Homo sapiens: one gene and its partners. The protein of the gene in region 1 purifies or fractionates together with the protein of each later gene. This does not show direct contact. Each region holds a gene or a part of one and is shown in the gene's direction. Other genes may lie near its edges.

What was found.
Region 2: the proteins of USP11 (region 1) and MYH10 purify together in Homo sapiens (affinity purification with mass spectrometry, with the first as the bait; 2 studies listed by BioGRID). This does not show direct contact.
Region 3: the proteins of USP11 (region 1) and TRIP12 purify together in Homo sapiens (affinity purification with mass spectrometry, with the first as the bait; 2 studies listed by BioGRID). This does not show direct contact.
Region 4: the proteins of USP11 (region 1) and MYO6 purify together in Homo sapiens (affinity purification with mass spectrometry, with the first as the bait; 2 studies listed by BioGRID). This does not show direct contact.
Region 5: the proteins of USP11 (region 1) and KIAA0930 purify together in Homo sapiens (affinity purification with mass spectrometry, with the first as the bait; 2 studies listed by BioGRID). This does not show direct contact.
Region 6: the proteins of USP11 (region 1) and DHX9 purify together in Homo sapiens (affinity purification with mass spectrometry, with the first as the bait; 2 studies listed by BioGRID). This does not show direct contact.
Region 7: the proteins of USP11 (region 1) and ENO1 purify together in Homo sapiens (affinity purification with mass spectrometry, with the first as the bait; 2 studies listed by BioGRID). This does not show direct contact.

What each region holds. Positions count from the first base shown.
Region 1 is NC_000023.11:47,242,876-47,246,999, forward strand, and holds part of USP11 (ubiquitin carboxyl-terminal hydrolase 11), read left to right. Parts: intron 1-520; coding exon 521-727; intron 728-1,622; coding exon 1,623-1,675; intron 1,676-1,806; coding exon 1,807-2,049; intron 2,050-2,140; coding exon 2,141-2,211; intron 2,212-2,494; coding exon 2,495-2,607; intron 2,608-4,124.
Region 2 is NC_000017.11:8,620,199-8,624,912, reverse strand, and holds part of MYH10 (myosin-10), read left to right. Parts: intron 1-1,635; 5' UTR 1,636-1,666; coding exon 1,667-2,011; intron 2,012-4,714. UniProt on the Homo sapiens protein: Cellular myosin that appears to play a role in cytokinesis, cell shape, and specialized functions such as secretion and capping. Involved with LARP6 in the stabilization of type I collagen mRNAs for CO1A1 and CO1A2.
Region 3 is NC_000002.12:229,859,507-229,864,220, reverse strand, and holds part of TRIP12 (E3 ubiquitin-protein ligase TRIP12), read left to right. Parts: intron 1-3,689; coding exon 3,690-3,815; intron 3,816-4,646; coding exon 4,647-4,714. UniProt on the Homo sapiens protein: E3 ubiquitin-protein ligase involved in ubiquitin fusion degradation (UFD) pathway and regulation of DNA repair.
Region 4 is NC_000006.12:75,755,739-75,759,238, forward strand, and holds part of MYO6 (unconventional myosin-VI), read left to right. Parts: intron 1-3,500. UniProt on the Homo sapiens protein: Myosins are actin-based motor molecules with ATPase activity. Unconventional myosins serve in intracellular movements. Myosin 6 is a reverse-direction motor protein that moves towards the minus-end of actin filaments.
Region 5 is NC_000022.11:45,205,765-45,210,478, reverse strand, and holds part of KIAA0930 (uncharacterized protein KIAA0930), read left to right. Parts: intron 1-4,566; coding exon 4,567-4,686; intron 4,687-4,714.
Region 6 is NC_000001.11:182,841,740-182,846,453, forward strand, and holds part of DHX9 (ATP-dependent RNA helicase A), read left to right. Parts: intron 1-805; 5' UTR 806-827; coding exon 828-938; intron 939-1,554; coding exon 1,555-1,695; intron 1,696-4,714. UniProt on the Homo sapiens protein: Multifunctional ATP-dependent nucleic acid helicase that unwinds DNA and RNA in a 3' to 5' direction and that plays important roles in many processes, such as DNA replication, transcriptional activation, post-transcriptional RNA regulation, mRNA translation and RNA-mediated gene silencing.
Region 7 is NC_000001.11:8,868,176-8,872,889, reverse strand, and holds part of ENO1 (alpha-enolase), read left to right. Parts: intron 1-903; coding exon 904-999; exon of another isoform or gene 1,000-2,006; coding exon of another isoform or gene 2,007-2,065; exon of another isoform or gene 2,066-2,379; coding exon 2,380-2,438; intron 2,439-4,714. UniProt on the Homo sapiens protein: Glycolytic enzyme the catalyzes the conversion of 2-phosphoglycerate to phosphoenolpyruvate. In addition to glycolysis, involved in various processes such as growth control, hypoxia tolerance and allergic responses.

The sequences.
Region 1 (4,124 bases):
TGAGGCAGGAGAATCACTTGAACCCGAGAGGTTCAAGTGAGCCAAGATCACGCCACTGCACTCCAGTCTGGGCGACAGGGCAAAACTCCATCTCAAAAATAAATAAAGCCGGGCGCGGTGGCTCACGCCTGTAATCCCAGCACTTTGGGAGGCTGAAGCAGGCAGATCACGAGGTCAGGAGATGGAGACCATCCTGGCTAACACGGTGAAACCCCGTCTCTACTAAAAATACAAAAAATTAGCCGGGCGTGGTGGCAGGTGCCTGTAGTCCCAGCTACTCGGGAGGCTGAGGCAGGAGAATGGCATGAACCCGGGAGGCGGAGCTTGCAGTGAGCCGAGATCGTGCCACTGCACTGCAGCCTGGGCAACAGAGCGAGACTCCGTCTCAAAAATAAATAAATAAATAAATAAAAATAAAAATGCCTTCAGGCTGTGAGGATGAGTGGGTGGGGCAGCCAGGGCAGAGTCAGGGAGTCTCTGGGGGCCCTGATCAGGTGTGCCTGCTGTCCACCCCCCACAGCTATGAGGTGTCAGGTCGCATTGAGGCCATTGAGGGCTCAAGAGAGGACATCGTGGTTCCTGTCTACCTGCGGGAGCGCACCCCTGCCCGTGACTACAACAACTCCTACTACGGCCTGATGCTTTTTGGACACCCCCTCCTGGTATCAGTGCCCCGGGACCGCTTCACCTGGGAGGGCCTGTATAACGTCCTGATGTACCGGCTCTCGTAAGTGTCCTCTTCCCCGGGGGTGGGGGGCGGAGGGGTCTGAACTCCGACTTGGGTGTTTAGCTGCTTATTTGACACCTCCCCTGTAACAAACAAAAGACAGTCCAAACTTAACATGGCCATAGAAGAACTTGTAGGGTTTTTTCTTTCTCTAGACCTCTGGCTTTGCTACTGCCTGTCTTGGGTGCTAGGGATACAGAGGTGAACAAGATGCACAAAACAGACAACTTCATCTTGTCTTCAGTTGTCTCTCCTGGAGACTGTTGTCCCTCCTGGGAGAGTCTTGGTTTTTTTGTCTTTTTGCTGACAAATTTTCATTTTGCCTAAAATCTAGAGTCTTTACTGTGGCACACAAAGCATTGTGTTATCAGAATTCTCCCCCCTCATTTTGCATTCAAAAGTCATTCCCCAGAGGCTTTCCCTGATGGGAAGTTACAGCCGGTATGTGTCTTGTCTAGCAGTGGCTTATTAGAGTAAAAGTCCACGCTCCATACCTTTTTTTTTTTTTTTTTTTGAGATGGAGTCTTGCTCTGTTGCCCAGGCTGGAGTGTAGTGACATGATCTTGGCTCACTGCAACCTCCATCTCCCGGATTCAAGCGATTCTCCTGCCTCAGCCTCCCAAATAGCTGCAATTACAGCCGCGCGCCACCACGCCCAGCTAATCACACTCCACACCTCTGACTGGGACACAAGTTCCTTCATTCTCAGGCCACTGCTGACAGCCTTGGCCTCTTCATGCATTTACGCGTCACCCCTTCAGCCCTCTCACACCTCAGATTCAGAACGGTTTACATGTGGATCTACCAATGGCTTCCCATTATCTTAAGTAAAATCCCGGGCTCTATCCCCACTGTCCTTGTACCCGTCTTGGGAGTCTCCTCTGCTCTGTTGCAGACGCTACGTGACCAAACCCAACTCAGATGATGAGGACGATGGGGATGAGAAAGGTGAGGGGGCTAACAGTCAGTGGGCGGGGGCTCTGGGTTAGGTCTGACCCACGTAGGGTTCGTCTAGGTGTGCATTGCAGCTTAGCACTTGAGGCTCACACCTTCCCATCTCTGACATCCTCCTGTCCTAGAAGATGACGAGGAGGATAAAGATGACGTCCCTGGGCCCTCAACTGGGGGCAGCCTCCGAGACCCTGAGCCAGAGCAGGCTGGGCCCAGCTCTGGAGTCACGAACAGGTGCCCGTTCCTCCTGGACAATTGCCTTGGCACATCTCAGTGGCCCCCAAGGCGACGACGCAAGCAGCTGTTCACCCTGCAGACGGTGAACTCCAATGGGACCAGCGACCGCACAACCTCCCCTGAAGAAGTCCATGGTATTTCCTTTGGCTATCAGCGAGGGCTGGGGAGGCTGGAGGGGAGATTTCCTGGCAGCAGGATCCATGACCACCTCTCCCTCACCCCCAGCCCAGCCGTACATTGCTATCGACTGGGAGCCAGAGATGAAGAAGCGTTACTATGACGAGGTAGAGGCTGAGGTAAATGAGATCCCAGGGATGGGGGGTACTTCCAGCTCTTGCCCCTCAACTCTTCGTACATCCTCCCCACAACTCCTCTAGCTGGGAACAGAGCCAAGAGATCCAGGTCAAGCTTGGCCTTGGGGCCTGAACACCTACTGAGAGCTCCAGGGCCTGAGGTTCCTAGCTTCAAAGTCGGTGCTCTGACCCACTCAGTGTGTGTCTCCCCCGCTGGGCCCCCACTCCCCATTTCTCCATCTGTCCTCACAGCCGGCCATCTGGTTGTCTGTTCACCCAATCCTAGGGCTACGTGAAGCATGACTGCGTCGGGTACGTGATGAAGAAGGCTCCCGTGCGGCTGCAGGAGTGCATTGAGCTCTTCACCACTGTGGAGACCCTGGAGAAGGAAAACCCCTGGTGAGGGGCCAGAGCGGGGCCTGTGTGTGGGGGTTTCATTGGATGGAACTACTATATTTAGCTTTTTTTTTTTTTTTTTGAGACAGAGTCTGGCTCTGTCAACCCAGGCTGAAGTGCAGTGGTACAATCTCGGCTCAGTGCAACCTCTGCCTCCCAGGATCAAGCTGTTCTCCTGCCTAAGTCTCCTGAGTAGCTGGGATTATAGGCACCCACTACCATGCCTGGCTAATTTTTATATTTTTAGTAGAAACAGGTTTTGCCACGTTGGCCAGGCTGGTCTCGAACTCCTGACTAAAGATGATCCACCCGCCTTGGCCTTCCAAAGTGCTGGGATTACAGGCGTGAGCCACCACACCTGGCCTATATTTAGCTCTTTAAGTATACCTTCCTCCTCCCTCCTCCACACTCAAACCCTTCTTGCCAACCTGGCCACCAATCTCCTGAGCAGACTCCTACCCCAGAGCCTTGGCCTGTGCTGTTCCTTCTCCAGGAATGTTGTTCCCAGTGATCTACAGGACTTCACTCCTTACGATGCTCAGGTCTCCGATCAAATGTGACCTCATCAGAGAGACCTCCTCTGACTACCCTGTTAAAAATCACCCTTCCCCACCATCCCTCTCCATCCCCTCTCTGCTCTTTTCTTCCTAGCCAAGCATTACTTTCTAGCTCAGCGATGCCACTTGATGTGATGTCCTGTATCCACTTTTGTGTTATTTGTCATCTTCGTTAGAGTCAACTCCTCGAGGGTGAAGACTTAAGTTCACTGTGTGTTGCTTCTACCTGTTTATAATAGTGTTGAGTGTTCGGTTGATGCTCAGTAGACACTTGCAGAATAAACAAAAAGAGAACCAAAACCACACTCCCTAGTCTCAGAAATAAGAGCAGCATGTCCGTGGAGCAGAAATGGAACAGAAATACAAAATAGTTCCAAAGGGTTAAACAAGCAATCAATAAATACTGGGGAGTGAATGAATGACTAAAATACGAAGAGAGGAAACTAGAAGGATAGAGGTGGGCTCTAAAATAAGACTAGCATCTCATGGAACAGAAATCAAACAAAAATACAAAAAATAGTATGAGCACATATACAAAAGATAGTAAGCACTTGACGAGTGAGTGAAAGGATTTTAACAGGAACAGAGCAAACTAGAATACTAGATGGGCTAATAGTAAGAGCAGTGTTTCTGTGAGCCAGACATGGCACGTGAGAGGCAGTACAAAGGGCGCACAGTAGGTGCTCAGAAAAAGTCTGTTTTGGCTGGGCATTGTGGCTCATGCCTGTCATCCGAGTACCTTGGGAGGCCGACACGGGTGGATCACCTGAGGTCAGGAATTCAAGGCCAGCCTGGCCAACATGGTGAAACCCTGTCTCTATTAAAAATACACAAATTAGCAGGGCATGGTGGTGCATGCCTGTAATTCCAGCTACTCGGGAGGCTGAGGCAGGAGAATCGCTTGAACCCAGGAGGTGGAGGCTGCAGTGATCCGAGATCGCGCCACTGTACTCCAGCCTGGGC
Region 2 (4,714 bases), on another chromosome or scaffold:
TGGCTAATTTTTAAATTTTTCTGTAGAGGCGGGATCTTGCTATGTTGCCCAGGCTGGTCTCAAATATTTGGCTTCAAGCACTCCTCCCACCTTAGCCCCTCAAGTTGCTGAGATAACAGTTATGGGCCATTGTGCCCAGAAGTTGGTTGAATGTGTAACCACTATCAGTGATTAATCTTTTAGGATACAGATAGAGCCCTTTAGAATCTAGAGAACGTTATAGCACATATATACACACGCTAAGTGCATAATATTTTTATACCATTTCAGGGATTTTGTTGAAGTTGAGATTAGCTGATGGACTCAAGAACCTCTTAACAACCTTAGACTACTTTATGATTTCCTCTTGCCTACAAAGAACCTCTAGCATTTTTGGCTAGGGGAGTGGAGTGAACAGAGGGGAGAAGTGGGGATTTGATAGAGCAAGAGTAGGTACTCAGTTGGCTTCTTCTGTTGGTTTGAATGAAGTGATGGAAGCCATGCCTATGAAATTTATAATAACCTGGAATTTGGAGTAGCAGCAAAAATGTTTAAGTTGGTATCAAATCCCAAAAAGATCCTGTCAGGCAATCATGATGAGTCACATTAGAAAGATGATGGATGTAAAATCCTGCCATTTGGTCCAGAAAGCCAGTGCACAAGTAGAGGAGGGGACATAGCTTAGCCACAAAGTGATGGAGCTTCCTCTGCTAGCCCTTTGTGAGCCAATGGTAAATGGGTGCTAAATAAAACAACTAGGTCTTGAGATACATTAATTGTAAATGTCACAGAACCAGTACTTTCCTCAATGTGGCTAAGATAGTTGATGGTTCCTTTTTCTTCTGCACTGGTCAGACCATATCTGGGCTATGATGTTTGCTTCTGGGCCACACACTTTAGAGGGAAGACAAGCAGCATGTTGGAGTCTGTTTAGGCGAGAGATCCGGCAGGGGAAGGAGTCTTGGTGAATGAGGGGTGGAGGAGCTGCAGGATGGGAATAGAGGCCTGAACTGCTACCATGACATATTCAAAAGGCTGCCGTGTGAAGCCAAGTTATGCTTGTCTTTTGTGGTCCCAGTTGATCACATTAAGACCTCATGGGGCCATAGAAAAGCTAGAGGGAGACTGATTTGGGTTATTCATAAGAAGAACTTTAAGTCTGTTATCTGAGGGTAGAATGAGAGGCATGTTTTAGATTCTTTAGATTCTTTACTCTTCTGACAATCATGTGTTTTTGTAGCTGTTTCCTTGTGGTCATATTAATTCTGGTACCACTTCATGAACCTTTTATTACCCATCTTTGTTTTCTTTTTTTTTTTCCCTTCTTAACTCCCTGTTTAATTTGTGGTGAGGGTGAAAGAGGAGATAAAGAAAAAAAAGGGTCAACTTGTAACTTTGCCTTTTCTTTTCTTTTCTTTTCTTTTTTTTGCCCTCAGTAACTGAGGGCAAACCCATCAGACAACCAGAGCCATAATTTGTGGTCACCGCTGAAATTTACCTTGGAAACTCGGTTAGTATGGCTGTGAAGAGGTATACCCCAGCTCCTTAACACAGAGTTAATGCTTAATCTAAGGTTTTAAGTTTCTTAGAAAAGAAAAACGTGTACATTCTTTTGTTTCTTAAACATCTAATTTTGCCCTCCTCCTCTTCTCTTAGAGGCAATTGCTTTTGGATCGTTCCATTTACAATGGCGCAGAGAACTGGACTCGAGGATCCAGAGAGGTATCTCTTTGTGGACAGGGCTGTCATCTACAACCCTGCCACTCAAGCTGATTGGACAGCTAAAAAGCTAGTGTGGATTCCATCAGAACGCCATGGTTTTGAGGCAGCTAGTATCAAAGAAGAACGGGGAGATGAAGTTATGGTGGAGTTGGCAGAGAATGGAAAGAAAGCAATGGTCAACAAAGATGATATTCAGAAGATGAACCCACCTAAGTTTTCCAAGGTGGAGGATATGGCAGAATTGACATGCTTGAATGAAGCTTCCGTTTTACATAATCTGAAGGATCGCTACTATTCAGGACTAATCTATGTAAGTATTTCTTCCAAATAATCATGTGAAGTGGTAGCTAGGAATTAATGTAAATTATACATCTTGTCATAATCAAATGAGAATGTGGAATACCCAAACTCTCTGTTTAACATTTCTATTTCTCTTTAAGATAGAAAGATTTGTTGCTTGCTTACCCATGTCTTGCTTTTCTTTGAATCTTAACACATTAAGTTTAAATAATACAGGCTGCAATTACATATAATAAAATGGCATTTGAAGACTTTTGTAGTGGTCTTCTGGAGCATAATAAGGTGGGAGAGAGCATGTAACAGGAAGACCAGAAGGTTTAATAAGGTAAAGAGAGTTGCATTAATTGGACGCAGACAGCAAAACGGTCAAAAATCAAGTGCATACCCAAGAGTAAAGTGGAGGGGCTGTAAGCTGAGAAATTTCTGTGGACAGCATGAACAGCTTCACTGGATGTAGTAGGGAAGTAGGAAAGATGAATGCTGAGGTTTTTAAGAGGAAACAATTAGGGTAAGATTGAGGCTGGCTGGGGTCGTCCTGTGGTTAGCAGCTGACATGAATGTTGGAGTCACCGACTTTGTCACTGACCATGTAGAAGAAGTTATTGAAAATCATAAGGGATAATGTAGAGAGGGATAATGTAGAGAGGAAAAATGTAAGCCAGATACTAAAAGAAAAATCTAAAATGACAAAATAGGTTTGAGGGAATGGTAGACAGAGGTGGCAATGATTTGAAGAAGGTGGCACGTGTGGGACTTAAACTGACGATGAAGGGAAGTAGGAAGAAAAGTTGATGGTCGTGGTTTGAAATCGGAAAAGGGGTGTTGAATTTTACACAAGGAGTGTGCTACTGAAGGTCATGAATAATTCAAAACTTCAGTAAATCAGAGCTAGTTTTCCTACAGAATTAGTTTAAGGAATATTTATTAAGCACCCCCTGTGCTCTAGGTGCTGGGGATAGTACAGTGAAGAAGACAGGCCAGGTCTCTCTGCCTTTCTGAAATGTCCAATGAGGAAATGAAACAAGGCTATGGAGAGAGTAAGTAGGAGAATGGCTTTCTCCAGCGGGTCAGTTAAGGGCTGTTTGTGAAGGTAGCATTTGAGCTGGAGTCTGACTGGTGGGAGGCAGCTAGCCACGAGAAAAGCTGAGAAAAGAATGATTCATTCATGACCTTTGCCAGAGTAGTTTCAACCAAGCCTGATAGATCTCCCTTATTTTCTTCTCTATGAGGTAGGAGAGTAAGAGGCCACAGGGTTGGAACGGTGGCTTGAGGAGAATGGAAAGGCTTAGGAACAACCCTTTTCCAATTTCAGACTAAGCCAGGGATAAGAAAGCGACTGGAGAGTGGCGTTGAGAGTCCAGCTGAGATTGAATAACCACGTGTAGGGTGACCGCAATTTTGCCTGGCTATGTGATTTTGCCAGACCATGGGATTGTCTCAGGTCTGTGAGTGTGGGGGGCTTTGGATCTGCATGGCTTCCACAGTGAGAGGGGGATTCAGTGGCCGTCTTTGGAGTCCTCGTTCGGTAGGAATGGGAGTCTGGGTGGGAGGGGCTGATGGATCAAGGCCTGGAAGTTTTCAGAATGTTGAGGAACAGGGATCATGGGGTGAAGGAGTGAGAAAACTGCAAAATTAAGAGGTTATGGTCAGATTGTAATGTCGACATGTAAGATTTGAGAGGTTGATCAGTTTCAGATGAAGCCCATTGCAATAAATTGTGCAGGTATGGAAATGTGATGTCACCATCAAAAACTGTGCAGTGTGAAGAGGAGCCAGGCTGCTTTTCTGCCAGCCTTCACCTTAATTTCCCACACTGGCAGCTGGAGGTAGCTGCAAAGGGTGCTAAGTAGAAAAGGAATGAAAGAAAGGACAGGTGTTTTTTTGTTGTTTTTGTTTTTGTTTTGCAGCCATTCCACATAATTCAGAGATTTTACAGTTATCTCTTACTGAGTTTGTTGGATTTTTTTCCAACTTAACTCATGGACAACCTGAGTGAACTTCTGAGTTTCTTTTCAAAGCACAGCCTCCTTCTACAGGAGAATCTGAGTTTTTCTCAAAGTCTCAAGGTCACACAGAGGTCGGGGTTTGGGAGGATCATATCTTCAATTAGTTGGGTGGAGAAAGGGTTCTTACCTAAGGTTCTAGTTGGAGAACTTGACTCCAAAGAAGTCTGTGTCGTTAAGAGGATGGGGATGGGGAGAGCCATGCTAGCATTGTGATAAATATGTATTGGGCTTTGGAATTAACCAGCCAGTTGGGATGATCAGTTGAGGTTCAATAATATAGATACTAGAATAATTTGGGTAGAACCTTTTTTGGACATATTTCTATAGATAAGATATAACATAAATTTATTTAAACAAATTAGCTTGCTAACAGGTTTAGTTATTTTATTTTCTTACCTTTTCTTTGGATTTATTCTCTCTGACCCCCAATTTCTCAGGTCATTAATTTTCATCTTCTTTCCTAATAAAACAGTTTAAAAACTGTAAATGTCTTCTCTAATACTGTTTTAGCTCACATCACAAGTTTCTATATGTAGTATTTAGTCTTCAGTTCTAAATATTTTCTAATTTCTATGATGATTCCTTTAGTGAACCATTTAAAAGTGTATTTGTAAAATTTCAAAATGTTGATTTTTAAGTTATCTTTTTATTATTCATTTTTAAAATAATTACATCTCAATCACAGAATATTGTTCATATAGGAGACT
Region 3 (4,714 bases), on another chromosome or scaffold:
GTGCTCTGGGCCCATCTTATTTTTAACATATCAGCCCGGTTATTTTTAGTGGATAATTTTGCAGAGACATGAGTTTTTTTTTCAGGAATACCCATATGTTGTTATAGAAGCTCCTGAACACATGTGTGCACGTGTGCGCGTGCACACACACACACACACACACACACACACACTCTCTCTCTCTCTCTCTCTCTCTCTCTCTCTCTCTCTCTCTCTTTCACCCAAATCTTTGGGCTATAATTTACTAAATGACCTCATTCTAGTGCTATTTAAAAGAGTTTGTCATGCATTTTACTATACTGTTCTACAAATTTTATTTATAGTGGATATAAATTTTACTAGGTTTTAAAAAGATTATGCTTTTTAATAAAAACTAAAGTTGAAGGATTAAGGCTTGCTAAATTAGAGAGGTGGTAAAATGAGCTAAAAGGAGGCGTCCAAGGCTCCTTTACCTCTGAATACTGTGATGTTCTAATTGGCTATTCCAGATTGGACATCATTATTTTATGGAGATTTACTTTGCAGCATTTTTGAGCATTAATAATTTATAAGTGGACATAATAAAATAGAGCTCCATTTTGGGAGGCCCCATATTGTCACTTCATGGTACCATCTGGTTGTCTATTCCTTGTTAGCCAGGGTTGAAAACTATAGCGCATGGGCTGAATCTGGCTCACTGCCTGTTTTTGTAAATAAAATTTTGATTGAAGTATAGCCACCATGCTCGTTTGTTTGAGAATTTTCTGTACCTGTTTTTTTGACATACAGTATTGCCCAGGAAGCTGAAAATATTTACTCTCCTTTATGGAAAATGTATTAAGTCCCATGGGCTAAACAGATAGGCAGAAGGGACAGTTAAGTATCAATATTTTATATTTTTAAAATATATTTTTTAAACAGTCCTTAGAATATCACACTTTAAAATAATTTTAGGTAAGATCAGTGTGGGCATTGTTGATTTTTTTTTTTTCTTTCTTTCTTTTTTTTTTTTCGAGATGGAGTCTCGCCCTGTCACCCAGGCTGGAGTACAGTGACACGATCGCGGCTCACTGCAACCTCCGCCTCCTGGGTTCAAGCAATTCTTCTGCCTCAGCCTCCCAAGTAGCTGAGACTACAGGTGTGCGCCACCATGCCCGGCTCATTTTTGTAGTTTTTATTAGAGACGGGGTTTCACCATCTTGGCCAGGCTGGTCTTGAACTCCTGACCTCATGACACATCCGCCTCTGTCTCCCAAAGTGCTGGGATTACAGGCATGAGCCACCGTGCCCTGCTGGGCATTGCTGAATTTAAGCCAGTTTTGTGAGCCTTGGTTTTCTAAATGATTTGAATACTGTTTACTTTTTGTGGTATAATATAGAGAGTTTACATGCTAAGTTCTTAAGTTCATTGAAGGTATTAGTAAGGGCATGAGAAATAACACAGGAGTAGAATTAGGTGGATCTAACATAAGCTATATAAAAGTCAACAGAACAATTTATTTGAGTTAAAAAGAGGAGGGCTGCTGCCCCAGACCTCACCTTTAGTTTCATATGGGCCGGTTTCTGATGACAAATGGAATGAATCATAATTTTTAATTGTTTTGGGCATTTATTTTTCACAAAGTTGTCTAGCTTTGAATGTATGTAGTTTTCTTTCAGAATGAGTTGTTTAATTATCAAGGAATGCAACAAGCTATATTTTAAATTTTAAAATGAAATAAAGTAGAAAACGTGATTTAATTAAAACATCAGTCTGCAACGATCTTTAAGAAAATAAGAATGTAGAGGACCTGAATGACATAATTTATATTTCCTGTAGCTGTTAAATTCCACACCCCAAAAACAGAACGTTACACCTCTTTTTTAGAATAACTATGGAATGATTTGAAAAATAGTCTCATTTCTGAAGAAAAAAGAGTTGAACTCTGAGATCTGTTAGTAGAAATATAACAAAAACAAAAGCAACTCTTAGAAATTAAATCTCTAATAAACTCATTGGTTAAAGCAAAATTTTAGTCTGCAATGGGAGAATATCTAGGAAAAATTAAAATTAAATCACAATATATACAAGGCAGGAAAATCACATGATCCTGGGAGGCGGAGGTTGCAGTGAGCCGAGATAGTGTCGCTGCACTCCAGCCTGGGCGATAGAGCAAAACCCTGTCTGAAACACCAAAAAATAAAAAATAACAACAACAACAACAAAAACACAATGTATAAAAAATCTTACAAAGTTCAGCTTAGCTACAACTTTAGAAAATATGCTTCTTGAAGTATATGTGTCCTTTCATTACTAAAAGTGAAGACTAATAACACTTGAAAGGCTCACCTAGAGTTTTGTTTTTTTGTTATTTTTTTTTAAGAAATTCATCTATTCTAATAAGTCTTTAGAACATATTATTACTTTCAGATTAGAACCTTAAAAACAAAAATGATATGAGGGATCCAGGAACTATTTCCTTTCTTAAGAAGCTAATTTCTTACCTTCTTTTAAGACTCTTTTCATGAATTCTGGAAAGATGGAAGAAGAAGTGATACAGAAAAGAGAAACCTTAGGTCCTCTTTTGGAACAGATGGTTGTACTTGTATGATATCTTAAGAAATTTATGGCATCCTTACAGATTGAGTTAGAATTATTTTGTGAGATTTTCAGTGACTCATTTCTAAGTTCTTTTGAGATGGTGTTTGGAATAAAAGCCTTAAACTTTTTTTTAACAAGTAAATTTGGTATTAATGAAACTTTTTTCTAGATTTTCATTGGTATATGCTCTTATGTGGAAAGTGGATATCAGCTATGAATTACATAAATTGCATTTGTTACATTAATATCTCACCCGAATGGCAGCAGTTTTCTGGATATCAACATGTGTTTGTTTTTTATTGCTTATGTAAATCTCATGTAACCATTCCCCAAGGTCTAAAAAATAATCTAACTGAAAACAGTTTTTTCATGTTCCTCAAACTTGCTTTTAGAATAGTGCTGGCATAAGGATTTGATTTATTGTAAATATGATGCACCATATCAATCATGGAATTATTTGAATGTTTTTTGGAACTTTTGTGGTAAATTCCATATTTCTCCAGGACTTTTTTGTGTTCTTTCTGTTGACAAGTACTTTAAAGTTTTAGCAAGTATCACTATGTTGATTTCATGTAGGTTTATTTATTGTTTAGTGCTTGAAATGATTTTCTGTGTAAAATCAGTTTGAGAATTGGTTCGTCTGTCTCTGCATTTGCTGTGTTTACCTGAATTTTAAGTACAAATTGGAAATCGGTATCAGTGTGGGAATCATCAATTGTCTTTTCCGTAAACTTTTAAAGCCATTACAGTCACATTATGTATTAAAAGTGTGTTTAGATCTAAAGTCTAAATTTGCTTTTTGTTAAAATGTAGCATATTTGAATATCTGCACTAAAATTGCTGAAAAATGTGTTACTGCTTAAGCAACCTTAACAACGCTGTGCAATTATGACTACTGGTGATAATAAACTCTTCGGTATTGCGGGGCGGGGGTGGTTCTGAGAGGCAATTTCTTTTTGCCAGATTATTTAGTAGAATAATAATTAAAATTTATAAATATTTGGAAAAAGGGTAGGGTCAACAATGAATTGTGGGAAGCTTTAAGAAATATATAAAAATATTTCATTTTCAGTATTGTATTTGCATCTCAGTTTCCTGATAGATTTCTGTTTTGATTTTCTGCTGACAGGTCACATTTAGGGCAGGCAAAACATAAGGGATATAGCCCTCCTGAGAGTAGAAAATCTAATTCTAAGGCACCCAAAGTGCAGTCTAATACTACTTCTGAACTGTCAAGGGGACACCTTTCTAAAAGGTAAATCTTCATGTTGCTTATACATTTTCAAGGCAGAATTATTTGCATTCAAATCATTGCATAATGTTAAAACTTGAGGTTATTCCAAAACGTTTTGATACATATTTTCATTATTCTCTAAGTAACTTTTAGGATTGACAGTTTATCACCTTTGCAGTGATTAGTGCAGTATACCCTAGACAGTGAGTTTGTCAATGATAAAATGATATTTTTGTTTGGAGAGCCGTAAGATTCCCCCTTTGCTTAACAAACCATTATGGCCATTTTTTATTTCTTTTTATTTTTTAATCTTTTTTTTAGTTTTTATTGTCAGAGCCATAGTTTAGGTTTAAGTCAGTGATTCTTAAGATTTAATTGTTAAGAGACTTTGGAAAGCAATGTTAACTTTGAAGATTTGATAGTACTACAATATAAAAATCTCTAACCTTCATTTTGAAAGTGCGTATGTTAATGCTTATTTCTTCTAAGCTTTGACAAAGCAGTTGTGCTTGTGAATAGGGCATCAATATTCTGGCTTCCTCTGGTTCCGAACAATTAAGTGTTGTTTTTCTTGTAATCTTAATTCTTGTTTTGTGATTACGAGTGTTAGTGTCAGTAATCTTTGGGCTAAAGAACACCCTTATCTTTTAATCAGATATTTTAGTATCCAAAGTCACATCTGCTTTTGTTTTGTTCTTTTATTTCGTTTTACAGATTTGAACCTTCTGAAAACCTATGTTTAATACTGGACTTAGTAGGAACATATTCATACTTTATTTTTTGAAAGCATTATATATGACAGTTGTAATTATGACAGGCTGATATTAACTGTTTTCTTATCTAACCTCTTAGAAGCTGCAGTTCATCATCTGCTGTGATAGTTCCACAACCAGAGGATCCAGACAGAGCCAATACTTCAG
Region 4 (3,500 bases), on another chromosome or scaffold:
TAAAACGTACTGTAGTGTCTACCACGGACCAGGCACTATTCTAAGTTCTAGGGATACAGTGATTAAATTAAGACCAAGCCCCTGTACTGACATTTTATTGTTGTTTTGAATTAAGTTAATTATAGACTCTTCATACTAGGATGTAATCAACAGGGCTGACCCTAAAGTTGGGAAATAGGCAGTTGTCAAAATTGTGCAATTTAAAGGCTACTGCATGACTTACTTGCTCTGGAATATTTCTGACCTATCTGTCGAAGACTCCCAGACTATTGGGTTATGGCGCTGTTACCAACCTGCTTTGATAAATATAAGTATGTTCCATCATTTATCACACTTTTAGCAAAGAAAACTGAGAGAAAATAAATGGGAACTAGAATTGGACACGGTGATGCTTACCTGTAGTCCTAGCTACTCAGGCGGCTGAGGCAGGAGGAATGCTTGAGCCCAGGTGTTTGAGGCCAGCCTAGGCAACATAGCCAGATTCTGTCTCAAAAAAAAAAAACAACAAGCAAGCAAAAAACAAATGGGACTAGGACTGATATGTTGGTGTTGTAAGAGAAGAGGTTAGCAAAGTATAATTTTAATAGCAGCTATTGTTTTTTCTTTTTTTTTGAGACGGAGTCTCGCTCTGTCACCCAGGCTGGAGTGCAGTGGTGCAATCTTGGCTCACTGCAACTTCCGCCTCTCGGGTTCAAGCGATTCCCCTGCCTCAGCCTCCTGAGTAGCCGGGATTACAGGTGCTCACGACCATGCCTGGCTAATTTTTGTATTTGTAGTAGAGGTGGGGTTTCACCATGTTGGCCAGGCTGGTCTCGAACTTCTGACTTCAGGTGATCTGCCCGCCTTCGCCTCCCAAACTGCTGAGATTACAGGCATGAGCCACTGTGCCTGGCCAATAGCAGCTATTGTTTATTGAGCTTTTACTACCATGTCAGATATTATGCCAAGTGAGTATTTTTGTATACATTAGCTCAATCACTGTGTCACCTCAGTGGTGCTGGTGTTATGACCTTCATTTTACAGATTAGGAAACTGAGGGGCAGAGATGTTAAATTTGCTCAAGCTTATTTGGTGGTGCTGGAATTTGGGTCTCTGCTAGTACTAAGCAGGTAGTAGATACTAATGTGGAAAGAGTACTTATGTGTGTTGTGTGTGTATATATATATATATATACACATATATATACACACCATATATAGTGTGTATATATGTGTATATATGTATACACACATATATAGTGTGTATATATGTATACACACATATATAGTGTGTATATATGTATACACACATATATAGTGTGTATATATGTGTATATATGTATACACACATATATAGTGTGTATATATATGTATACGCAATATGTATTGTGTATATATGTGTATATATGTATATACAAGAGTACTTATGTGTGTTGTGTGTGTGTATGTATATACACACATATATACACACATATATTGTGTATATATGTATATAGACATATATACATATACATATATAGACATACATACATATGTGTGTGTATATATGTATATAGACATATACACAATATATGTGTGTGTATGTATACACACACATATACATATAGAACATATATACATATACATATAGAACATCAGAAGTCTGTGTGTGTGTGTGTATATATATGTATACACATATATATACACACACACACATAGAGACAGACTTCTGATGTTCTGCTAGGATGTGTGACACATCACAGAGGTGGGCGACCTTGGTGTGGGAGTGATGGGTGTGGGGAGTCAGGATAGCTTGTTGGGTGAGGGGTGGGAATTGGGGTTGGAAGGAGATGGGAGGGTATTACTTGCCTAACTACTTGGTCGTCAGGCTTAATCCTCTCTCTGACAGCCCTGGGGTTCCAGAGTTGCGTTTAAGCACAGTGCTTTCTTGTCCAGCTCCTGGGTAAGAGGATAGGCAGACCTGAGGCAATCCTGGTTTTGTCACTCATTAACTTGGTCAAATTATTTCATTTCTCTAGGCTTCAGTTTTCTCATCTATAAAATGGAAGTAACAATATTACCTACCTGGTGTGGTTCTTATGAGGATTGAATTAGATAATAATACATGTAAAACACAGATCACACTGGCTAGCACATAGTGTACATTCATTATTATTGTTGTTACTGTGTTTTTTTTTGTCATGTTTAATGTGGAATTTTCATCGAAAAGCAAGAAGAGCAATATATTAGTGATTTGGTTGGAATCTTGAAGTTGGCTTTTTTTTTTTTTTTTTTTTTTTGAGATGGAGTCTCGTTCTGTTGCCCAGGCTGGAGTGCAGTAGCGCGATCTTGGCTCACCACACCTTCTGCCTCCCAGGTTCAAGCAATTCTCCTGCCTCAGCTTCCCGAGTAGCTGGGACTACAGGCACGTGCCACCATGCCCAGCCAATTTTTGTATTTTTAGTAGACACGGGGTTTCACTATGTTGGCAAGCTTCCCTTTTGATTTATGTGCAAACTGGAATTAGAGAACTACTAGCTTAAACTTTTTCTTTATCTTTTGGTTAGGGAGGGCTTCAACAAGATTAACGACAATTTGCTTGGGTTAACCAGGCAGTATGTGGTAGAGGGAAGTGAAATATGTTACCAGAATCTCTTCATTGACTTTTTTTTAAAGCTTATTTGGGGCTTATAGCATTGTATGGAGAAGACAATGCAGTGTTAAATTTCGCACCTAAATTAGATTGTAATGACTGTTTCAGCTTTTTGTTTGTTTGTTTGTTTGAGATGGAGTCTCGCTCTGTCACCCAGGCTGGAGTGCAGTGTTGCCATCTCAGCTCACTGCAAGCTCCGCCTCCTGGGTTCACGCCATTCTCCTGCCTCAGCCTCCCAAGTAGCTGGGACTACAGGCTCCCGCCACCACGCCCAGCTAATTTTTCTTATTTAGTAGAGATGGGGTTTCACTGTGTTAGCCAGGATGGTCTTGCTCTCCTGACCTCGTGATCTGCCCGACTCGGCCTCCCAGAGTGTTGGGATTACAGGCGTGAGCCACCGCGCCTGGCCTGTTTCAGCTTTTTAACTAGCTTCATTCGGAGGTGATTAGTTAATATTAGTTAAAATTGTTAATTTTTAACGATTATACAAATAGTAAAAATGTATAAATACATGTTTGTATAGATCTTTTTTTTTTTTTGAGATGTAGTCTCACCCTGTTGCCCACGCTGGAGTGCAGTGGCATGATCTCAGCTCACTGCAATCTCCCCCTCCCAGGTTCAAGCGATTCTAATGTCTCAGCCTCCTGAGTAGCTGGGATCACAGGCATGTGCCACCATGCCCGGCTAATTTTTATATTTTTAGTGGAGACGGGGTTTCACCATGTTGGCCAGGCTGGTCTCGAACTCCTGACCTCAGCTGAGCCACCCGCCTCAGTCTCCCAAAGTGCTGGGATTACAGGAGTGAGCCACAGCGCCCGGCCGTTTCTATAGATCCGGTCATTTCTATAGATCTTAAAAACTTTCAAAAACTTAGATTTCTTTAGATAATG
Region 5 (4,714 bases), on another chromosome or scaffold:
GATGTTTGGGGTTAGTGTGACCATATGAGTGCCCTTGGCAGGGGGGTGGATGGTGCCTCAGGATCCTCACTGCCCGTGACCCTCATGGCGGGCACAGGCTCCTCTCACCTCTGCACAGTTCTGGGGGAGGGACTCCTCTCACCCATGGGAACCGGAACTCGGAGGCTCAGGCCCTCTGTCGTCCCAGGGCTGTGGACCCCACCCCTGCCTCCGTCCACTGTGGCCTCTCAGCTTCTGCTGGAGTTCAGGTTGCAGAGAACTTTTCTCCCACCCCCAAATGTTGGTCTTTTCCCCAAGGCAGAGTCTGTTGCAAGCCAGGGCTCTAACGAGGACTTGGTGCATTTGAGACACTCTCAGCTGTACTTTGAATTTTGATTCCAGAGAGGTCACGACTCTGGTCAAGAGGGCAGACAGGGAGGTGGGAGGACGGGTTGTGTGCACCCTGGATAGGCCGGGGTAGGGGGAGGAGAAAGGAACGGCAGATGAGGGGTCCATCTTGGGTGGAGCAGAAGTTAAAGGTGAGAGCCCTCCACTGAGAAAGCGCAGCCCTGGATCTAGGCCTGAGGAATTTGGAGCAGAGGGGATGGGGTCACATCCAGGATCTGCTGAAAATTTGGGGGTGTCGAGGTCAGTGAGGGAAGCCTGAGTCCCACGGGAGCAGGTGGCAGTCCAGCTGTTTACATGCTAGAATGTTCTATTGAACACCCACTGTGAGCCATGTGCAGATGCCCCCCCACACTCAGTGCTGGGAGCACAGAAATGACTCATATCTGGCCTCAGTCTGTTTGGATAGACAGACGGTATGGCCAGTGCTATGGAGCCATCAGTGCTGTGATGGTGGGAAGAGGAGCAGGGCGGCGGTGGTGGGGGGAGTGCAGAAGGTGACATCTGGCGGGCGGGTTGTAGGACAGAGAGAGCGGGCAGCAGTGGGCTGAGGACACGCCCCGTGGAGGGACCAGTGAGTGCAGAGTGGGAGGGTGTGTGACGAGTGCCACATGGGACCTGCCAGACTAGGCCGATGGAGATTGCGGGGCCTGGTGGGTGGGTCCTGGGGCTGCCCCAACTTGGCATTTTTCCCAGCTTGTCGGGCTGCAGTGCTGAGGGTGGCCTGCAGGGGGCAGGCTGGAGGCGCTGATGGGGAGACGGGGAGACCCCCCCTGGCAAAAGCCCTGAGCGCTCGGTGGAGGTGGGGGACCCGCGGAGTCGCCTGCGCACTGCAAGTCCTCTGCGGGAGCCTGGCTACTTCCCGCCCCCTCCCCATGCCCATCCCGCTGGTACCCGGTTGCCATAGCAACCAGCCGGGCCTCCTGCACCTAGCAGGGGAGCGTGGATGGGCAGGAGCTGCAGTGTCAGGGGGACAGGATGCCAGGAACCCCGAGTGCTCCAGGGCCCAAGGGACATCCCCAGTCCAGCCTTTCCCAGGGAGGGATGTCCTGGATTCCCTGCCCTCTGTTTCCTCCAGCCCTGGACAAAACGCTCTGTGTTCCTGGGCAGCCCATTGTGTGCCTTTGGCAGGAGGGGGACCTGGCTCTGTGTGCTGCTGGCTCTGCGCTGGTGGCCGGAGCCCTGTGTCTCACGGTCACGTGACACCTCAGGATCCTAAGGTGCCGATCACCTTCACACCCACTCAGAAAACCAAAGCTCAGAGACGGGGAGGAAGCTTCCTGGGGTCACACAGTTTGCCAGCGGCGAAGCCCTGTCCCCAGTCTCACTTTTTCCTTTTTAGTAGATTGTTTTCAATATAACGTCTATACAGAAAAACACAGACGTGTACACAGTTTGATTCTTCTTAGACTGAACACCTGGTTTCACCAGCCCCCAGATACAGAGTGTGATGAGAACACCGAGGCCCCTTCACCCCACCCCAGGGCTCAACCTCCCCCTGGGCAGCTGCTGCTCTGTCTCCTCAAACTTCCCGGGCGGGTTCTGCCTGTTCTCACAGCTCCTGCATGTGGAGTCGGTGGGTTCTGCCTGTTCTTACAGCTCGTGCGTGTGGAGTCGGTGGTTCTGCCTGTTCTCACAGCTCCTGCGTGTGGAGTTGGGTTCTGCCTGTTCTCACAGCTCGTGTGTGTGGAGTTGGCGGGTTCTACCTGTTCTTACAGCTCGTGCATGTGGAGTCGGTGGTTCTGCCTGTTCTCACAGCTCATGTGTGTGGAGTCGGTGGTTCTGCCTGTTCTCACAGCTCATACATTGGAATCGGGCAGTATATGTTGTTTCAGGCTTCTTTCTCCGCATGTCATGTTTGTGAGTCATGCCTGTTGACACAGGTGGTTGTAATCTGGTCTCACTGCTGTGTAATGCCTGCAGAGTGTACCATGGCGGCCTGGCCACCCTCCTGTCAGTGGGTACCGGGCAGCTCCCAGTGTCCTCTTGGGCCTGGCTTTGGTGCGCACACGGACACCTTTCTGATGGGGAACCTGCTCTTTCGCCTGCCTGTGCTGTGGTGCTGCCCCGAACAGCCGTGTGATCGTGCCCCCGAGCCTTTCATTCACTGAGTCCACAGCGCTTTGCTGAGCAAAAGCAAATGAACAGGTCAATGAAGCGAGACCAGGAGGAACAGCAGAGTCTTGTGAACCCCAGGACTCTCAGCTCAGGGGCTCGGGGTGACTGCAGAACCATACAGGCGGTGGAAGTGGGGCCCCCCGACCCGGGGACGTCTGTTTCTCGCTCCTAGGCAAGGTTGGCCTCTTGCACCTCTTTCCATAGATCCCAGCTCTGCCTTTGGGGGGTGCAGGCCTGTGCACCTGCAAGAGGGCCCAGCAGTGCCCAGCCCCTCGGAGCCCGAGTCAGTGAGAGCACCCAGGACCGGGACCAGAGGCCCCCAGTCAGCACAGCTGCTTCAAAATTGAAAGCCAGGCTGGGCGCGGTGGCTCACGCCTGTAATCCCTGCACTTTGGGAGGCCGAGGTGGGTAGATCACTTGAGGTCAGGAGTTTGAGATCAGCTTGGCCAACATGGTGAAACCCCGTCTCTATTAAAAAAAAAAAAAAAAAATTACGTGTGGTGGCAGACGCCTATAATCCCAGGTACTTGGGAGGCTGGGGCAGGAGAATCACGTGAACCCAGGAGGTAGAGGTTGCAGTGAGCCAAGATTGTGCCACTGTACTCCAGCCCGGGTGACAAAGCAAGACTTCATCTCAAAAAAATAAAAAAATAAGAAATAAATTGAGGCCGGGTGCAGTGGCTCATGCCTGTAATCCCTGCACTTTGGGAGGCCGAGGTGGGTAGATCACTTGAGGTCAGGAGTTCGAGATCAGCCTGGCCAACATGGTGAAACCCCCTCTCTATTAAAAATACAGAAAAAAATTAGCCAGGTGTGGTGGCAGACACCTGTAATCCCAGCTACTTGGGAGGCTGGGGCAGGAGAATCACATGAACCCAGGAGGTAGAGGTTGCAGTGAGCCAAGATTGTGCCACTGTACTCCAGCCCGGGTGACAGAGCGAGACTCCGTCTCAAAACAATAAATAAGAAATAAATTGAGGCCGGGCACGGTGGCCCATGCTTGTAATCCCAGCACTTTAGGAGGCCGAGGTGGGCAGATCACCTGAGGTCAGGAGTTCGAGACCAGCCTGGCCAACATGGTGAAATCCTGTCTCTACCAAAAATACAAAAAGTAGACAGGTGTGGTGGCACGTGCCTGTAATCCCAGCTACTCAGGAGGCTGAGGCAGGAGAATCATTAGAATCCAGGAGGCGGAGACTGCAGTGAGCCAAGATGTGTTGCACTGTAGCCTGGGTGACGGATGGAGTGAGATTCTGTCTCAAAAAAAAAAAAAAATTGGAAGCCAGTCTCCCAGGAGAGGTGTAGACATGCTTTGGTTTCTCTCTGATATGTATTTATTATTGATCTTCAGTAAATTTGACTCTGATCTGTTAACATGGGGCTAATGATACCTGCATTGCAGGGTTGCTTTAAAAGGATTAATAATTTGTAAAATGTGTAGCCCAGACCCCGCCGTCCACTAAGAGCTCAGTAGGTGTCACTATTATCATTGATGCCACTTAGCAAATATGAGCTCTTTAAATCATTATGACAACTTTGAGGGGAAGATGCCCTTAGTCCATTGTACAGATGAAGAAACTGAGGCTTAGTGAGGAGAATGGATGGCCCCTGGGTCCCATCTCCCGTCGCTAGAGAACTGGGGAGCAAGAATTGGAGTTCTGGCCGGGCATGGTGGCTCACACCTGTAATCCCAGTACTTTGGGAGGTCGAGGCAGGAGGATCACCTGAGCCCAGGAGTTCAAGACCAGCCTGGACAACATGGCGAAACGCCACATCTACAAAAAGTTTTAAAAATTAGCCGGGTGTGGTAGCACGTGCCTGTGGTCCCTGTTGCTTGGGAGGCTGAAGTGAGAGGATCATTTGAGCCCAGGAGGTTGAGGCTACAGTGAGCTGTCATTGCACCACTGCTCTCTAGCCTGGGCAGCGGTGTGAGACCCTGTCTCAAAAAATAGTAAGAAAAAAGAATTGGAGTCCTTGTCCATCGTAATGCCTGCATAGTAGTCAGGGAAGAAGAAGAGCACCACAGTGGGCCCTGGGCACTCACTTCTGCTCTGGGCCTCGCAGGCAGCTGAGCCTGAGGTGGAGGTGGAGGTGTACCGGCGGGACTCCAAGAAGCTGCCAGGCCTGGGAGACCCTGACATCGACTGGGAGGAGAGCGTCTGCCTGAATCTCATCCTGCAGAAGGTATGGGGTGGGATGGGTGGGGCTGCGG
Region 6 (4,714 bases), on another chromosome or scaffold:
GTGGTCTCATATCTTGCTTACAGTTTAGACTCAGCATTTAGACTGATAGGCTCCATATCTTGTGGTATTTTATAGACTTGTTGCACTTCAAGAAAACTTTAATATCCTCAAATTTTAATAAAAAGGCCTAAAGGAGAGATTTGGTATAGAACATTTAAGTTAATAGGTTACCGTCTTCAGTACTGAGTGCTTAATGTATTTGAACTTTATTATATTATTAATACATGGCCTACAACTTTGGGGACAATATGCTAGTGGTCATAATCAGAATGAGAATAAAACATTGAATTTATATGCAAATGATAACTTTCTTAATATATAGTAGTTTGGATTTGAATTTAGGCCTCCACGGTGGGTGACTTGGAAGTTACTTTTTTAAATCTTAGTTTCTTACTTCCTGAAAAGACAATGATAGTACCCACCATATCTGTGTGCCATTGTTGTGAGGATGAACTGAGTTAAATATATAAGGTGCCCGTTGTAGAATATAGGGCCTTATATAAAATACTTTGTAAGAAAAGATAAAAATCACTCTTAGTCCCCAAAGATAACCATTTTAGGGGGTATTTCTTTCCAGTCTTGATCATGTATATGTACTTTTCATGAAGTTCAAATCATACCGTTTTGTATCCTTTTTCTTACAACATATAAACGTTCCAATTATGTCGTTAAAATTTATGGGGAGTCTTAATAGCAACATGATAGAATATCCTATGTTTAACCCAGATTCAGTAATCTAGATAATTGGTTCCTCCCAGTTTTTGCTATTATAAATGCTGTTTTTAACTGACTTTTGTTTTCTTAGATCTGAAGAAGACACTTGAATCATGGGTGACGTTAAAAATTTTCTGTATGCCTGGTGTGGCAAAAGGAAGATGACCCCATCCTATGAAATTAGAGCAGTGGGGAACAAAAACAGGCAGAAATTCATGTGTGAGGTACTGAAGAATACAGTTTGCATTTATGTGATTTATGAGGTTCATTTTGGGGTTAAAAGAAAAATGTTTTCTGTTTGGAGATGTTAATGTGTTGCACATTAGGAAACGACAGTTCTTTATTGTGACTTGACTGCTATTGTAAATCATTTTCAAGTCAGCATTACTTTTAAAACAATCTGACAGGTAAATTATTCTAATTAGAGCCTATATCTTCCTCAGCTTCCTCAGTACCAGTAGTGGGGATGGGAAAAGTTGGATCAACTGTTTGCAGTTTTATAAGCACGTTTAGAAAGCAGAGCAATTCTTGATTGCTTCAAATCAAAGTGCTTAAATACAAATGGAGAGCTTGTTCATGGATATTACAGAATCAGATTTTAATGTGAACCTTCTGTTATATGAGAAAAAAAAATCTGAGCCACTTAAATTATTTTTGGATACAACACAATTTAAGCTTTTTCAGTAGCTCATGCATTCTCTTATTTTTATATTTATATTTATAGAGTATATTTCCTAAAGTTAGCTGTTTGTTGTCTCTTAATGGACTACTGAATTACGACTTTTTAAAATCTCAGAATTACCCAGGTCAGTCTCTTAGTACTTTTTTTTTTTTTTAAAGGTTCAGGTGGAAGGTTATAATTACACTGGCATGGGAAATTCCACCAATAAAAAAGATGCACAAAGCAATGCTGCCAGAGACTTTGTTAACTATTTGGTTCGAATAAATGAAATAAAGAGTGAAGAAGTTCCAGCTTTTGGGGTAAGTACCTATGGCGAAGCACTTGAGATGTATGTTGTAAAGTTGTACAAACTCAATATGCGTAAGAGACTCAAGATAGTAATTTTTCACTGTTTTCAGATATATCGTGTTTCGTAATGAAATTTGGCATCTTGTTTTGTCTCAGCACTGGACAAAATTTCTGAAGATGTGGATTGCATCCTTATTATATACCTGTCTTAGGGGCTTGAGAAATTCCATTAATCTTTGTGTCTTATGGCTTTATTTCATGTATTTATACACCAGAAATTTCAGAGTCTGTTATGTTCCATTCATTACCAATGATAATACTTTAAATAAAATAGAAAAATCAGTAATATTTTAGACATGTTTGCTCCCATTGACACTCCCCCTGCCCCGTAAGCGATGAGGTCTTGCTCTGTTACCCAAGCTAGAATGCAGTGACACAACCATAGCTCACTGCAGCCTCAAACTCTTGGGCTCAAGCAGTCCTTCATCCTTAACCCCCTTAGTAGCTGGACTACAGGTGCATGCCACCACTTCTGGCAAGTTCTTTGTGTTTTGAGGCAGAGTCTTGCACTGTCGCCCAGGCTGGAGTGATCTCGGCTCACTGCAGCCTCCGCCTCCTGGGTTCAAGCGATTCTCCTGCCTCAGCCTCCGAGTAGCTGGGATTACAGGCACGCTCCATGATGCCCAGCTATTTTTTATGTTTTTAGTAGAGATAGGGTTTCACCATGTTGGCCAGGCTGGTCTTGAACTCCTGACCTCAAGTGATCCATCCACCCACTTCCGTCTTCCAAAGTGCTGGGATCACAGGCATGGGCCACTGCACCTGGCTGACATGTCCTTATATAACAAAATAGTATTTTATGCAATGGAGTATTTTTGTGTTTTTTATGTCATGATTATCTTAATTATATTACGTAAGTATGCAACAAATACCTCTGTCTAGTAGGTTGTTTTGGGGGATTTTTGTTTTGTTTTTCTGCCTTTTTTCTTTTTGGGGCTCAATCAAACTCTTGGCCTCAAGCCATCCTCCCACTTCAGCTCTTCCCCAGTAGCTGGGACTGTGGGTGTGTGCCGCTACACTAGGCTCTAGTAGTTTTTAAGAAATAAGGTTTTTTTTGTTTGTTTGTTTGTTTTGTTTTTTAAGACGGAGTCTTGCTCTGTTACCTAGGGTGGAGTGCAGTGCTCACTGCAACCTCCACCTCCTGGGTTCAAGCAGTTCTCCTGCCTCAGTCTCCTAAGTAGCTGGGATTACAGGCACCTGCCAACATGCCCAGCTAAATTTTGTATTTTTAGTAGAGACGGGGTTTTACCATTTTTTGCCAGGCTGGTCTCGAACTCCTGACCTCGGCCTCCCAAAGTGCTGGGATTACAGGTGGGAGCTACGGCGCCTGGCCCACGCCCAGCTAATTTTTGTGTTTTTAGTAGAGACAGATTTTCACCATGTTGGCCAGGCTTGTCTTGAACTCCTGACCTCAAGTGATCCGCCCCCTTCAGCCTCCCAAAGTGCTGGGATTACAGGTGTGAGCCACTGTGCCCAGCCTGTCTATGCCAGTTTTAACAGGGTCCTGTTACTGAATTTTTGTATTCTGCCTTGTTTATGACAGTATTCTGACTCGTTATGAAAGAAATCTTATTTCCTTCCATTCCTTTGACTAAGAACTCGATAGACTTACTTTCCGGTAGATTAACTGCTGGGTAATTATAGTATCTTACAGTCTTTAATTTTATTGGTTTGCCTATCTGTAAAATGAAGGGATTGGGCAAGATCATCTTAAAAATGCCTTCTGGTAGAGAAAACAGTTTTGCAAATGTCTTTTACATGTTTGAAGTCTCCCTCTATTCTTTATCTTTTAGGCTCTTCTCTATGGTCTTGTAGATCTGCTAGTGACAAATTCTCTTATTCTCTTTCTGAAAATATTTTTATTTTACCTTCTTTAAGAATATTTTCACTGGATGTAGAATTCTGGGGTACCAGATATTTTTTTCCCTCTTTTGGTATGTAAGTGGAAAAAAAAAAAAACAATTTTCCTCTTCTCTCATACCACAACAATCAACAAAGAAGATTTCTGTGACTAAATGTGGGGTGGAGGTGGGGGACTTTTTCCACACACCCCAAGCAAGCAATCAGTTCTGCAGCAGTCACTAGCAGGGTATCCTCCAGTTCAACTCTGACACTACCTGGAGATAGCGTCAGACTCCACAGGGTGAGGACTCAGTCCCACAAGACTCCCCAGCCCCTTCAGACACCACTTGCAAGTCTGGGCCTCTAGAACTTCTGACTGACTAGCTTCAAGTTATGGTTTTCATGACTGCCTCTTTGGGGTCAGTTAATTTGCTAGTGTGGCTCACAGAACTCAGGAAAACCTACATTTACCAGTTTATTATAAAGAATACTACAAAATACAGTTGGTGAAATAAGTAGGGCAAGATATGGCGGAGGCAGCAGGGAGCTCCCATGCCCTGCCTCGAACACCATTCTTCAGGAACCTCCACCTGTTCGGCCATTTGGAAGCCCTCCAAACCCTGTCCTTTGGTTTTTATGGAAACTTCATTATTCAGTATTGATTAAATCGTTGGCCATTGGTGACTTGACCTTCAGCCCTTCTCACTTCCCCAGAGGCTGGGAGGTGGGACCGAAAGTTTCAGCCCTCTAATCTTTCCTTGGTGGTTCTGGTGACCATCCCCCCACACCTGAAGCTACCTAGGGCCTGCCAGCCAGCAGTCAACTCGTTAGCATACAGAAAGTCTCCACTTAGGAGATTATAAGGATTTAGGATTTCTATGCCAGGGAAATGGGATTGAAGACCAGATGTACTTTTTTTTTTTTTTTTTGAGATGGAGTTTCGCTTTTGTTGCCCAGGCTGGAGTGCAGTGGCATGATCTCGGCTCACCGCCACCTTTGCCTCCGGGTTCAAGCGATTCTCCTGCCTCAGGCAGGAGTATCTGGGATTACTGGCATGTGCCGCCATGCCCGGCTAATTTTGTATTTTTAGTAGAGACGGGGTTTCTCCATGTTGGTCAGGCTGGTCTC
Region 7 (4,714 bases), on another chromosome or scaffold:
CTTGGTTCAGTTCTTACATTTATTAAACTGCGCATTTTATTATCTTTATTCCTTCCCCCCACATCCATCCTGTTTGCCAGTTTCCAGTTGGGCATAGAACCCCTAAAATAGCATTTAGCATTGTCCAAACTGAAACAAATGAGCTAGATACTCCTCCTGAGCCAGTTAAATTACCCTAATTTTATGCTTAACATCAATATAGTACCTGTCTGGGCATGGTGGCTCATGCCTGTAATCCCAGCATTTTGGGAGGCCGAGGTGGGCAGATCACCTGAGATCAGGAGTTCAAGACCAGCCTGGCCAACATGGTGAAACCCCATCTTTACTAAAAATAAAAAAACTAGCCGGGCGTGGTGGCAGGCTGCTGTAGTCCCAGTTGCTGGGGAGCCTGATGCAGGAGAATCGCTTGAACCCAGGAGGTGGAGATTGCAGTGAGCCAAGATCACGCCATACACTCTAGCCTGGGGGATAGAGCGAGATTCTGTCTCAAAAGAAAAAAAAAGTACCAGAACGTCTTCAATGCCCTGTGTGGCTCGCATTGGATTTCTCTTGGGCAGTGCTGCTGGAGTAATCCACAGGGCACCAATGCGAGCTTGTGAGGGATGCATATTTGCCTGGGTCAGAATCTACATTTTAACAAGACCTCCAGGTGGCATGTAGGCTCTGCTGTAGAACACTTTCTTTCTGCTAGAGGAATTAGTCATCTTTGCAGTAAGTTCTGCAGTACAGGATCATAAACATGTGAAAGGCATGAAGAACAGCCCAGAGCGTTTAATTCACACAGCTGGTAGGAGGAAGAAACAGCTCCCTAATGACAAATGCATCTGTGGGCGGGAGGGGACTTGGGATTGTGCTGGAACTGGATTTCTGAATTGCTACTACATCTTTTTTCCTCTCATCCAGGTCTCTTCAGAGCTGCTGTGCCCAGTGGTGCTTCAACTGGTATCTATGAGGCCCTAGAGCTCCGGGACAATGATAAGACTCGCTATATGGGGAAGGGTAAGCCTTAGAACCCACAGCCCATGGCCTCCCTGCTTCCAGCCCCATTCCTGGCCTTGCCCAGTCCTGTCCTCTCTGGGTGGCACTTGCACTTGCAGGTTTATGGCAGGTAAACCTGCTGTGACCCATGATGTTGATGGAAGCAGTGCACCACCTTGTGGACAGGAAAGTTGGTGTGTGGATTCCGGGGTTCCCGAGCCTGCATGCTCTGGGTCGAGAGTTCCAATGCTTGCTTCTATTGCAGTTTGTTCCCAATCTGCGAAATACTCCTTCACGGTTAGGACAGGAACCCAAGCATGAGAACAGGGCCTGTTAACTAAAGAAAAGTTTCCCCATCTCCCAGGAGGGTTCTGTGGGCCCTCCAGAGATCATCAGCCTCTTCACGGGCTAGAAAGGATCCAGGGAAGGTCTAACCAATGACCTGCCCTGAATGGTGAGCTGCAGGTGTGTCATTTAGTGTGATTTTCCTGTTGACTGACTCATAGGAGCCCTGCTCTGTGGCAGAGCTAGCCTCTGGCTGTATTCAAATTGACTTAGTGTGTGTGCAACATTGACCTTTCTAGAGATAGAACATGTGGCCAAATTACAGAAAAGCACATAGGGCTAGATCACGCATTCTCAGTGGGGCACCCGGAAAACTCCAAAAAGGCTGCAGGGAGGGGACAATGATGAAATCAGGTTGTGAAACACTGGGCTGGTGTCGCAGTGGTGGTGCTGGGTGTTCAGTCCCGCTTTAATGCTGTAAGAAGCACTCTACACACACGAACATGTTACCATTTGACCGTTGTTTAATGGCGTACGTGGGGACTTAGCCGGAGCAGGATGATGCTGTGCCTTGATGGTAATGAGTGCTCAGTAAGTAAGCATTTGTGGAAGATTGAACGCATGGCCCCTGAAATGCTCTCCTCTGCTTTCCTGCCCCCTCACTGTCTCTCACTCGCAGTCCTTAATCACCGGTTCTCTTCTGAGTCTCTCTCATTTTTCCTTCTTCATCCTCTGCTGGGCAGGCGTCTCCAGACCCATTAAGTATATTAATGAGTTCCTGGCACCAGCCCTGTGCACTCAGGTAACTGATTGAACAGCCTTTAGTCTGCAGTTGGCGTTTCCAGTGCATGGTCTTGCAAACTAACCTCCAGTCAGATCGTTCTGAGCCAGCTGCTGTTTTGTGTGGCTCTAACCCTCTGGGGTCCTAGGTAGGAGCACTCAGACTGGGCCGGAAAGTCCTCCGATTCTGGGGGGAAAGGGGAGAGGGGGAAGAGGTCCCACAGAAGGTCCCTTGGTGGGCTTCCGCGTCGGCCTCAACAGTGGTTCTCTCTAACAATGCTGCTCAAGCCTGTTTTAAAGTTAATGTCAGTAATTTGATTTGATTGTTCCTTCCAGGTGTCTCAAAGGCTGTTGAGCACATCAATAAAACTATTGCGCCTGCCCTGGTTAGCAAGGTAGGACCTGCCTCCTGATAACTAATGTGTCTAATGCCACCAGAGCGTCTCCCAGGCCCAGGGGCTTTCCTGTTTATGGAAGAGCTTATTCTGAGAGCTGTAGAAGCCTATTGGATTCCCTGTCACGCACGAGAACAATCCATGCATGACATAATTCTAACCTGCCCGCTGCCTCACCCCACTTTTGGGAGCAGATGGAATTGCATCAGAAGAATGAGACACTTCGAGCCCTGAGGTTTCTTCCCCCCTGCAACTCTCTGGACCTTTGAAGAAATTAAGATCCAGATTTTAAGAGTGGCTCTCAGGGGTGTTTGTGGTAGTGTCCATGGTGACTAATTTCTCATGAACTTTGGAATTATTTACTATAATTCTACTGACTTTAACAGTGGAGTTCCTGTTAAGTAAAATCTGGAAATCTCAGTATGTCAAACATAAAAGAGCTGCTGGAGGTGAAGTAGGGCTGGGGACCCAGCAACCCACCCGACTCTGCAGGTTTTATCTCATTTACCCTCCCTTCGGCCCGTCCCTCCGTAATTCCTGTGGCGCTCATCAGATGGGACTGGTTTGAAAACCCCTGTCTAAAAACACTCCGGGCCAGGTGCAGTGGCTCACACCTGTAATCCCAGCACTTTGGGAAGCTGAGGTGTGTGGATCACTTGAGGTCAGGAGTTGGAGACCAGTCTAGCCAACATGGTGAAACCCTATCTCTACTAAAAGTACAAAAATTGGCCGGGCATGGTGGTGCACGCCTGTAGTCCCAGCTACTTGGGAGTCTGAGACATGAGAATCGCTTGAAGCTGGGAGGCAGAGGTTGCAGTGAGCAGAGATTGTGCCACTGCACTCCAGCCTGGGCAACAGAGTGAGACTCTGTCTCAAAAAATAAAAATAACAAAGCTCTCTAGGCCCAGTCCAAGCCCAGCCACAGCCTCCGTCTATTCTTGAATCTAGTCCCTCTCCTCCATGAATTCATTCTGTACACGAGGGAAAAGGAGGAGTTCCTTTGTTGTCTCTGTCCCTGACTCGTTGGTTTAGGCCTGGCTTTTGTGGCACTCTGTAATTACTCCCTGCCCGACCAGCCCCCAGACAAAATGTCTTGTTACCGTTCTGTCTGCACCACCCCCTGCCAGTCTCCCGGACACCTCCACACATACCTTGTTCTCTGTCCCTTCATACCCCTGCATAGTGTGACTCACACGATGAGCAGGATCCCCTGACTTTTTTTTAACCCCCTAGAGAAACATACCAAACTGTTAGTGAGAATTGACCTCTGAAGCTGTGTGCTTGGGTAACTGCCTGCCTGTTGCAGTGATGCCTTGACAAAGCTGTGAAAGACACCAAATTGCTCATACAGCATGATGGGATCAGAGTTGATTTTCTTTGCATATTTTTTTATATCAAGCACATCATAGATAAAAATAATGCCTTGTTATTAATATATTAGTTTAAAATGGAATGCTGATTTTTGGCTGGGTGCAGTGGCTAACGCCTGTAATTCCAACACTTTAGGAGGACTTTAGGAGGCTGAGGTGGGCAGATCCCTTGAGGCCAGGAGTTTGAGACCAGCCTGGGCAACATGGCAAAGCCCATCTCTATAAAAAAAAAATATAAAAATTAGCCAGGCATGATGGTGCATGCCTATAGTCCCAGCTGAGTTTGGAGGATCATTTGAGCCCACGAGGTGGAGGTTGCAGTGAGCTGAGATCGTGACACTGCATTCCTGCCTTGGCAACAGAATGAGACTCTGTCTTAAAAAATAAAAATTAAAAAATTAAAAAGTAATACTGATTTTTATTGGATTACTTTGAGCCAGTTCTCAGTACGTCAGTTTTGTTACTTTATAGTCTCATCAAAAATTCATTTTGATCCATCATTAGACGCTTTGCTAAATGATTTCGGACTACCTGCAGAAATCATGCCTCCCATCAGAGGATGAAGATTTGCCATCTTTGCAGTTAGCCAAGAGTGAGCAGCAGAGCCTGCCTTTCAAGGGCTCAGCCTGCTTGAGTGAACAGTGAGCTTTGCTTATTTATTGCCTATGAAAGCCATGTTCCTGGGTAGCAGTGGTCTACATAGCACATACCTGACAGTTCTCTTGGGTGTAAAGTCACTTTGGGCTCCCTGGGTAGACTATTAACCTTTTGTTACAAAAGCATTGTCTGAGAGTGCCATCTCTGTTGCATTGTTGGGTGAATGCCTGATAACCATCAAAGCAAGCAGAAGGCAGTTTTTTGTCTCCCCACTGATTTTTGTCCTCCACTTTTTTTGCTTATAAAACA